2 separate regions of the Homo sapiens genome follow, and region 2 is linked to region 1. Evidence: fine-mapped expression QTL. A gene starts in region 1. The other region holds a variant in brackets. All regions are shown on one strand. Distances are between the middles of the regions.

What was found.
Region 2: its variant is fine-mapped to the expression of NUP42 in whole blood (TOPMed, PIP above 0.99).

The regions. Positions count from the first base shown.
Region 1 is chr7:23,179,573-23,184,956 of GRCh38, reverse strand. NUP42 (nucleoporin 42) reads right to left here and starts at 2,909. Exons shown (of 7, transcript NM_007342.3): 1 at 2,751-2,909. The coding sequence starts at 2,871. RefSeq lists enhancers at 2,545-2,614, 2,715-3,314.
Region 2 is chr7:23,256,713-23,262,096 of GRCh38, reverse strand. GPNMB (glycoprotein nmb) reads right to left here. Exons shown (of 11, transcript NM_002510.3): 4 at 5,032-5,205; 5 at 1,959-2,117; 6 at 1,324-1,641. Among named protein-coding and RNA genes, the nearest start is that of GPNMB, 13 kb to the right of the region's middle. RefSeq lists a silencer at 3,120-3,320. The variant G/A (reference allele first, on the strand shown) is at 2,714.

The DNA.
Region 1 (5,384 bases):
TTGGCTCACTGTAACCTCAACCTCCTAAGCTCAATCGATCCTCCCACCTCAGCCTCCTGAGTAGCTGGGACCACAGGCGCAAACCACCATGTCTGGCTAATTTTTGTACTTTTTGTAGAGATAAGGTCTTGCCATATTGCCCGGGGTTGGTCTCAAACTCCTGGGCTCAAGAGATCCACCTGCCTCAGCCTCCCAAAGTGCTGGAATTATAGGCATGAGCTACTGTGCCCAGCAACTGTTCTTTAAAATCTCAAAAATCTTCATTATATCTTAGTATGTCTAGACAATATAGAAAGATTCAACAAGCACTACATTTAAACTCATTTTAAATGACAATCTCTTCATTTTTTATTTATATACAGTAGTTAGGTTGTAATATCAACAAATCACATAGTGGCCAATTGCATTTTTGTTTGAGATTGAGAAGAAAATAATATAGAAAAATAGTGATATATTACTAAATTCAGCTGACAAAGCTTATTAAATGAACAACTGCTTGATAGTTAAAAGTTGACAGAAGGCATGCATCATAAATCATAAACTCCTTCAGGATAAAAACTTGGGTTTTTATCATTCTTTGCTCCCCCACCAGGCCCTATACTGTAGTAAAGGCTGAAAAATGGACATTGAATTAAAGTTTCTCGAATATGAAAGATTACATTCTACCCTCTGTTTTTGTACAGATGCTTAAGTCTATTTGACGCAGTCTTTTCTCTGGGCAAACACCTACACACCTATTTTCACAGAGAGATTATACATGGTATTTACATGTGTACAGAATGCATGTAGTTCCTCTACCAGCTTTCCAATATTTCATAAATATCAAAATGAGCCAAAAAGATTCTCTCCTCTCTTTATATATTGGTTTTGTTTTGTTTTTTAAAATCATTTTAGCAATCTCATTTACTCATCACTTCCTAGTTGGGGCCAAGATTAAGGTAATTCATCTTGTTTCTGACTGAATAAAGAGATAAGCCATTAATTATATTAAAAGTTAGAATGACACACATGCCCAGTTGTGAAAGTTCATCCTGCAACTCTAAACTACCCTAAAAAAAAAAAAAAAAAAAGTGGAGATTGCTAGACCAGATCCCTCAAGTAGAAGTTAATGGTATCTTCTTCTTCTAAAGTTCCAAATTCACTGGGGGATGATACAACTGAAGAAACTCACTTCCTCCTTTTTTTTTTTTTTTTTTTTTTTTACATTGCTTTTGGTCTTCATACTTATAATTCCAGAAACATTCATTTGTTTCTGGGAGCTAAATACAATTTGTCTGCCAAATTTTGTTTACACTCACATTCATCAGACATGAGTCCTAATTTTCGGTCTGAAATATTTCACTAGATTAATTGTGGAGGAAATAAAAGGACTGTCTTCCCTGAAGTGGGATCAGACGTGAAACCATCACGCAATACAAGGTTTAAAGGTTAGATGAGGCCCGCCGCGGTCGCTCACGCCTGTAATCCCAGCACTTTGAAAGACGGAAGCGGGAGTATCACCTTAGGTCACGAGTTCGAGACCGGTATGGCCAAAATGGCAAAACCCTGTCTCTACTAAAAATACAAAAATTATCAAGGGCATGGTGGCGGGCACCCGTAATCCCAGCTACTCGGGAGACTGAGGCATAAGAATCGCTTGAGCCTGGGAGGCGGAGGTCGCAGTGAGCCGCCTGACTGAGAGAGCAAGACTCCGTCTCAAAATAAAATAAAAAAATAAAGGTCAGATGAATAGCCCTAAAGGAGGGGAAGGAAGGGAGACAGCACCGAATTATTAACCCGATCTTTAAAAATCTTGTGTTGTTCTAAGGTTTCATGTCTAATCTCTCCTTTCCTTGAAGATAAAAAGCTTTGACAATGATCTAGGCCCAGGGACTAGATCAACGTGGCCCCCGCATCTCCTTTCCTCACCTCCCGGATAGCCCTTAACTGGGCGTCCCACATTCCCAATTTCACCCCAAATTTATGAGCAGGTGCATTTTTGCGGTATGGCTCTATAGGTTTTATTAGATTTTCTTTTTTTCTTTTCTTTCTTTCTTTTTTTTTTTTTGATAGTCTCGCTCTGTCGCCCAGGCTGGAGTGCAGTGGCACGATCTCGGCCCACTGCAACCTCCACCTCCCGGGTTCAAGCGATTCTCCTGTCTCAGCCTCATGAGTAGCTGGGATTACAGGCGCGCGCCACCACGCCCGGCTATTTTTTTTTTTTTTTTTTTTTTTGGTATTTTTAGTAAAGACGGTGTTTCACTATGTTGGTCAGGCTGGTCTCAAACTCCTGACCTCGTGATCCGCCCGCCTCGGCCTCCCAAAGTGCTGGGATTACAGGCGTGAGCCACCGCCCGGCCGGTTTTATTAGATTTTTTCAAAGAAGTCCACGACTTCTCCAAAATGAAGTCCTGATTCTGACCCAAGCTGCTAGCCTCACCCTCGAAAAAACAACTTAGTAAAAATTATATTCAATTCCGGCATTTACCTACAAGGTAGTTTCGATAGGTACTTCCGATTTAAAAACTCAGTTTCGCACAAGCATCCAGGCCCAAACCCAGGTCCTCAGAAGCTCAATAAAAACGGACCACATGAATAATATGTAGATAAAACCCTCGGTTTAAAAACGTTGTGCAGGGCCCAGTAGGGCCGGCAAGGCCGCGACGCGGGCACGTTGGGGTCACCAGCAGCGGGAAACACGCGGGACGCCCGGTCCCCGCCGGCGGACCCTTCCCGGCTCGGTTACCGCGGAGGATTCAGAGGAGAGTCACCTGAAGGCTGCTGCTGCGGTTGCTGCCGTCCTCCTCCTGCACCCCTAGCACCGGGATGTTCGTTCCAGCACCGATCTCCAAAGCGGCACCGGCCTTGAAGGAAGAATTGACAAATGGCCATTGCGACGGCGTCGCTGACGGAGGGCGTCTTCAGTCTGCACCGTTCGATGCCTGTTACTGGGCAGAGAGCCCTAAGGCAACCTCGGCGCCCGGCCGGGCTACTGTGACGTCATCTTCTCGCGCCTGGGAAGGCCTTTTTCCGCCTCTCACCCGGCAGTGCCATGAGACGCATGGACTTGAGCCAATAGGACTTGAGAAGAGCGGACCGCTCTGACGCTTTGAGTGTGTCCTGGGAAGGAGGGATGCTTGAACGGTTACGTGAAGACCGGAGGCGCGTTTGACCCCGGTGCAGGGCCTCGGACTACAGGAAGGCTGGAGGTCCAAAATGAGAGGAAAGCGGAGCAAGCAAACGCAGAACTTCAGCAAGGCCCTCAGAGGAGAATTAGCTATGATTTGAGAGACTGAGTCGTTCTTGCTGAGACGGTAAAACTTAGCTTGGGCTGAGAAAGTAACAAACTGCCTAGCCTTTCATCTGGATGGATAACAGAGTCAAATAAAGCCAGACGACGTTAAGAGGAAACAATGTTTCTTTTAGGACATGCTGCAACGGAAAAGTATTACCACTTAAGTACATTCTTACTACACACTGAGAAACCTTGTTATTTCTTCTTTTTTTTTTTTTTTTTTGAGACGGAGTCTCGCTCTGTCGCCCAGGCTGGAGTACAGTGGCAGAGCTTGGAGGCAAGCTCTGCCTCCAAGGTTCATGCCGTTCTCGTGCCTCAGCCTCCCGAGTAGCTGGGACTACAGGTGCCCGCCACCACGCCCGGCTAATTTTTTTGTATTTTTAGTAGACACGGTTTCACCGTGTTAGCCAGGATGGTCTCTATTTTCTGACCTCGTGATCCGCCCGCGTCCGCCTCCCAAAGTGCTGCGATTACAGGTGTGAGCCACCGCGTCTGGCCGAAACCTTGTTCTTTCAAGTCCACATAAACGTTGCTATTTGAAATTATATCAGAACGAGTGAAAAGTCCCATCCTTGCCTGGAGGATCTAAGTCTCTTTGACGCAGAGAAGCAGCCTCAATTTCTATCCAGGTGTAGAGCTTCAGATAAACGGTTCTGAAAACATTCTGTATTTTCTTAACTTTGCAGTTTCCAAGGAAACATGCCCTACATTCAATTCTCGTCCAGACCTGATGTTAATGCCTTTACACACAGCTATGCTTTGAGATTTCATTTAAATTTCACCTAAACTTCACTCTCCCCGCCAAAACATACAATAACTACCTTTTATTTTGTACGGTGAGACACACCACAGCTCCTCTGGTGTGCAGTCTTCTTGATTGCAATAAGTCAATAGATCTGACTTTGTTGGATTACAGGTTTGTGCTGGTGGTTTTAGGATTATTGAGCTGGGAGTGAGCCATCATTCTTGCTCATGTAATTTGTTTGGATTTTGAAGACAGCAGAATCTACAGGACGGGAACTACTTGTCCAAACTAGTTTTTTATTTTCTTTAATCAATGCAATTCATTTATTTTGAAACAAATTTATGGAAAAGTTACAAATAACAGTACAAAGAACTTTTTTCCTGAACCATTTGAGACTATGTTGCAGACCTAATGCCCCATGATCCAAATACTTATTGTATATTTTCTACAAACAAACCAGGGCATTCTACATAACCACAACACAGCCAACAAAATTAGGACATTGATACTGATGCACTACTACTCTCTAATCCTTAGACTCCATTTATGTTTTGCCAAATGTCCCAATATTGTCCTTTAGAGGAAAAGGGTTCAGTTCGGAATCATTGTTGCTTAGTCATATTTCTTGTGTCTCCTTCAATTTGGAAGATTTTTTGTTTTTCCTTTTCATGACCTTGACACTATTAAAGACTACAGGCTGCTTATACTGTAGAGGTTCCTTAGTGCAGGTCTGTTTGATGTTTTCTCTTGATTAGATTCAGATTATGCATCTTTGTCAGGATTATCACAGAAGTGATGCTGCGGTTTTCACATTGCAGGTTGTGCACAATTTCAATTTGTCCTGTTACCTGTAATGCTCAATGGATTACTTGCTTAAGGTGGTGTCTGCCAAGCTGCTCTACCATAAAGTTATTCTTTTCCTTTTTGTTATTAATAAGAATTTTGTGGGGAGGTACTTTGAAAGTATATAAAAATCTGATTGTTCATCCAACTTTTAGCTCATTCACTTATTTATTTATATCAGTATGGACTCATGATTTCCAATGTTATTCAATGGGTTATAATCCATTACTATCATTATTTATTTTGATGCTCAGATCATCTCCAATTTGGCCAATGGGACCCCCTTTAAGCTCCTTTACACATTCGAAAAAGGAGAAAAAAAAATTCCCCATGATTACTTGAGCACTTTTTTACTTTCTGGTGCAGAGATGTTCCAGGCTCATTTTTACATTCTCTACTCCAGTCCTGAAATCAGTTATTTCTCCAGGGGTCCTTTTGGTGCTGCTTAGAAACCAAGATCTGAGCTTTAATGTGCTTATTGCTACTGGGATGTCTTTGCTGTCATGAACATTGCTGGGAAAT
Region 2 (5,384 bases), 77 kb before region 1:
GTAAAAACAAGAAGCCCCAGACGTCATGATGGACCGTCGTGGGCTTGGTCCCTGGCGCCCTCTTGTGACCAGTGAGAGGATGTCAGCCTATTGCTATCCCCAGGATCCTGGGGTGCTGAGTGCAACTGGCCCAGTGGGAAAAGGGTGGTGATGGCATGGGGTAGCGTGGGGAATCAGATGGAAGCCAGTGCTACCCAAAGTGGACTCTTAAGGACTTCTTGAATGTCCCCAGACTATTAATATAGGGTGGTATTGAATTAATCATGCCTTAAATGCAGCACAGTTTTATTTTTATTTATTTTTCTCTTTTTTTTAAATTTTACTTTAAGTTCTAGGGTACATGTGCACAAAGTGCAGGTTTGTTACATATGTATACATGTGCCATGTTGGTGTGCTGCACCCATTAACTCGTCATTTACAATAGGTATTTCTGTTAATGCCATCCCGCCTCCCTACCCCTACCCCCCGACAGGCCCTGGTGTGTGATGTTCCCCGCCCTGTGTCCAAGTGTTCTCATTGTTCAGTTCCCACCTGTGAATGAGAACATGCGGCGTTTGGTTTTCTGTCCTTGTGATAGTTTGCTCAGAATGATGGTTTCCAGCTTCATCCATGTTCCTACAAAGGACATGAACTCATCCTTTTTTATGACTGCATAGTATTCTATGGTGTATATGTGCCACATTTTCTTAATCCAGTCTATCATTGATGGACATTTGGGTTCATTCCAAGTCTTTGCTATTGTGAATAGTGCCGCAATAAACATACGATGCAGCACAATTTTAATGTCAGGAGTCACTGCAGCTTGCTAACCCAGACATACTCTCAAGCTACATTCTTTCTTGGACCATTTGGAAATTGCTTTCAAGTACAGCTGTGTTTTCATGGACACTGGGTAGGTGTGGGCAGGGTAGGGAAAGAAATTAGTGGGGGAGAGGAAGGAACATAGAAATGACCTGATCGTATAAGGAGCCAGTGTGCCTTCTCATAGCCATAAAAAATGGGAGATAAACAAAAATGTGACAGGTTAGAAGAGGGGAGAGTGTGTACACATAGCAGGGACCAGTGCAAATGAGGAGGGTCAAAGAACTTTCTACAAGTCACTGAATTCTATTTGCAAAGTGACTTTACATACATTCTTCCTTCTTCTGTGTTCTATAGGTGTAAAATGGTGATAACTTTGCTTTAAAAAATCAACAGGTAGAAAATGGAATCACCGCAGAGTCCTTACAATATCCCCTTAAGGAGGGATTTAATAATATGACCTGCGTGAATATTTTGTTAGCCATTAAGGAGCCTCCCTCAAAGATCACTGCGAAACCTTACCTAAAGAAGGGGTGGGTTTTGAAGGTCTGGGTGGTGGTGGCGGTGGCGGACAAGGTCCTGGTGCTGCAGCTTTCACAGTGAGGTTAAGGCTGAAGGTTCCATTGAGCACATACGTGTGATTCACAGTATGATTGGTGGAAACAAACAGGCCAGTATTATCCCCGAAGCTCCACTTGTAGTTAATGGTAGAATAATTGAGGAAGTGGCTAGGATCATGAATCAGGACATCAAACATAATGGGGAGATCTTTGAGGAAGGTTTCGTCGGATGAATTTCGATCGTTCTTCTGGAACATAGTCACAAACACAGGAATCTGATCTAAAAGATACATCCCCCAAAGAAATAAAGAATGCATGATTGCTTGATTGTAAGTGGAGGGCTTCGACGATGCTTTTAGGTTGAAATATTAAAATGAGGGATAATTTAGCATTATTTTCCTTTTCACATGCAAGTTTTCTGGGGTTTCCCTAAGCTATTCTGGAAAACAGATGAACTACAACTAATTAAATACACAAGCTTAGGTGGGCCAGATGCATTGTAACCTAACCCCGAACACTTGGCCTTACCTCTTTTTTAACCCATTGACGTCAACAGAATGAAGTGCCTCATCCTCAGTTAGAGTTCACACCACTCACCTGTTACCACGTACACATCTTTCACTTGTGCGATGGGAACATATGCCCGTCCATGTCTTCTGTAGACAGTCACTTCCATGAGTTGAGGCCCAAGTGTCACATTGGCTGTGTTCACAGAAACTCTCACTGAACATCGTCCCAATTTCTGGAAATACTGACCTTTGGGAGGATGGAAATTTTTAGTTATTGGCTGCATTATATCATCATTATAGGAAGCTGTTCCTTAAAGACTAGCTACCACCATTTATAGATTGCTCTGAGGAGGGAAAATAGGATGGGCCTGTGGTGCTGCTTCAGAAAGGGAGATGGTGCTCATTTTAATGTAAAATCTTATAAAACAAACCCACAGTTGTATACATGTAATTGTATACAGTTGGTTAAAATTTAAAAAGCTGTTTAGTGGCATAAAACAGTTAGCCCTTAGTTTACAAATAAATGCTGTTTGTGCTAAGTAATTTGGCACTTGAAATACATGTTTTCCCCATAGAAAATACATTTAATATAATGATGAGGTGTCCAGAAGAGTTAAAAAAATTATTTATCCAATAACCTACCTTATTTTTGTTACTATTTCCGCTATATTATTAAGTGGATTTTTAAAAGGGGACTGGAATCCTCCATCTCCTAATAGTATTTGTATATAAAAATACAGCAAGTGGCTGGGCGCGGTAGCTCATGCCTGTAATCCCAGCATTTTGGGAGGCCGAGGCAGGCGGATCACGAGGTCAGGAGATGGAGACCATCCTGGCCAACAT[G/A]GTGAAACTCCATCTCTACTAAAATACAAAAAATTAGCTAGGTGTGGTGGTACGAGCCTGTAATCCAAGCTACTCGGGAGGCTGAGGCAGACGAATTGGTTAAACCCGGAGCGGGGATTCCAGTGAGCTGAGATCACACCACTGCACTCCAGCCTGGTGACAGAGCGAGACTCTGTCTCAAAAAAATAAAAATAAAAATCCCGTAAGTGATGAAATAGAGGATGGCAGACATAAAACAGAATGGGGTGGTTCCACAGGCACTTTCCTAGGACACCCCTGAGTCATTCCTTTTCTTTGTCCAACCCTCCCTGCTGCTAGCTAACAGGTGGAAGTAATTCCTCTCCTTCAGGGCTCAAGGACATTTAAACAAATTTTAAAACTCTGTAACTCCTCTTACTATCATTCCCAAATCAAGAACTTTTCTAATCCTGCCAGGGGGCCTGGTTTAGACCTGTCACTGACTGGGTATCTTAGGTTGCATGCTTTTGAGACCGGGTTGTTTCAAGACCCCGTGTATCACACCGTCAAACGTGTGAGAAAAACACACTGGTCTCTCCAGGGATGTGTGGTTTGGAATCCTCCTTCACGTTGAGATGCAGGGGTAGTTCCATCAGAAGTTATAAGGGGAAGAGATGTCTCTCAGGGGTTATTCGTGAGGAAAATGTTAGTTTCAGCTCTGAGAGGTGAGACCATACTTAGTTGAGGGAGAATATCAGTTAACTCTGAGACCTCAGTGGAAGACAGAAATTCAAGGCAGTCTTGTTAGACAAACAGAGCAAGTTCTAGGCTGAAAGTTGATTTTAAATACAGACATTTGATCTGGTTAAGTTATTGGAATGTTTACTAGGCTAAAGAGTCGGCGAGTGTTAGTGAACATAAGTGACTCCATGCAAAATGTCAGAATTCTGTCATGAGAGTGACAAGTCAAAGAAATGTTTGGTGAGTTGGCTAATGGGGTCGTAATGGCAGTGAAAAATAAGTTAGCTTTAAGGCAATTGATTTATATAGATGAGCATAATATTTGACATAGCTTATACTCTGTTCAATGGGTATGTATTGTTAATATTTTGTCCTGATTTGTAAATAAGTTAATTGAAGGAAGAGGAGCTCTCTCTAATCTGTGATGAAAGATGAAATATTTAGTAATCTGGAGGCTGCTTGATTGGTAGCAATTTTCAAATACTCAGTGCCAGGTGGCACCTAGTGACATTTTAAACTAAGAATTTAGCAGCCTAATTAATAATAAGCTCAATTTGCTCCTTCTAAAAGTAATCATTTCCCCAATAATACAACAAAATGAATACCATTTGTAATTTAAAAAAAGACAGAATGGGCTAGGTCAAAGCGGAACAGTAGTTATTTTATTTGTACACAATGAAATATCGTGCAGCCATTAAAACAATGTATAAAAATTAAAAAAATCATATCATCAAATGCTAATGATAGTAAGCAAAAATGTGTATGTGATCTTAATAATGATCTTAAATACTAGCAAAGAAAACACCATAATAATTAACAATTATAATCTCTGGTATTAATTATGGATAATTTTTATTTTTTATTTGTACCTTTTCTGAGGATTTCCTACAAATAAATAGCACATGCTTCTTTAAATCTTAAAAATTCTTTAGAGAACATAAAAAAACTAAAGAATCAATCAATGAATGCTCATCAATGTGCCATTCTGTTTTTTGTTTGTTTGTTTGTTTTTCGAGATGGAGTCTCACTCTGTTGCCCAGGCTGGAGTGCAATGGCTCAATCTCCTCTCACTGCAACCTCCACCTCCCGGATTCAAGTGATTCTCCTGCCTCAGCCTCCTGAGTAGCTGGGATTACAGGTGCGCACCACCACACCTGGCTAATTTTTGTATTTTTAGTAGGGACGGGACTTCACCATGTTGGCCAGGCTGGTCTTGAACTCCTGACTTCAGGTGATCCACCCGCCTCCGCCTTCCAAGGTGCTGGGATTACAAGTGTGAGCCACATGCCCGGTCTCCATGTGCCATTCAAATAAATAAGTGTTAGCATTTTTTCTTGTTATGGTTTTAGGTAGAAAAAAATTAAGTGGTTTTGTTTTTTTGAAAAAGAGCTTAATCTTTTTGTTTTTCTCTCTTTTTAACTCTTCGGTGTCCTGGAGATTTGGCAAGGTTAACCAAGATTTCATTTTTATCTCTCACTGTTCACTCATGCTAAGGAAAGTTAGCAGGGTGACTGTTATTAACTCTCTGTGTTATCATTCTCAATTATAGAGTAAGAAAAGAGAAGGTTGAAATTTTAAGGAAAGGTAAAGAAGAAGCTTAGGGGTTTGTAAAAGCCAACCAAGTGTGTGGAAGACGTAGATGAAATTCCATCTTCTCCATCCGGGGTGGTGAGGAAAAGGTTTCCCATCAGGGAAGACGTTATGATGGCTTTGGCCGGTGCCATTTTCCCCGTCACTGTCCTCTGACCATGCTGTCCAGTTGTAAACATACGGATCAGCAGATAAACCAGCCTCTAAACAGAGATAGAAACCAGCCATGAGTGTTATCTAGGCTCAGAAAACCCAATGTGCATGCATCACTGAATTAAACACTTTTTCGTATTTTTTTCATAACTAGTTTAAAAGTAGTTAGACAACTAAACACTTAATATGTAGAATCCATCCAATAGTATGCTTATGACTTGTGCACTTT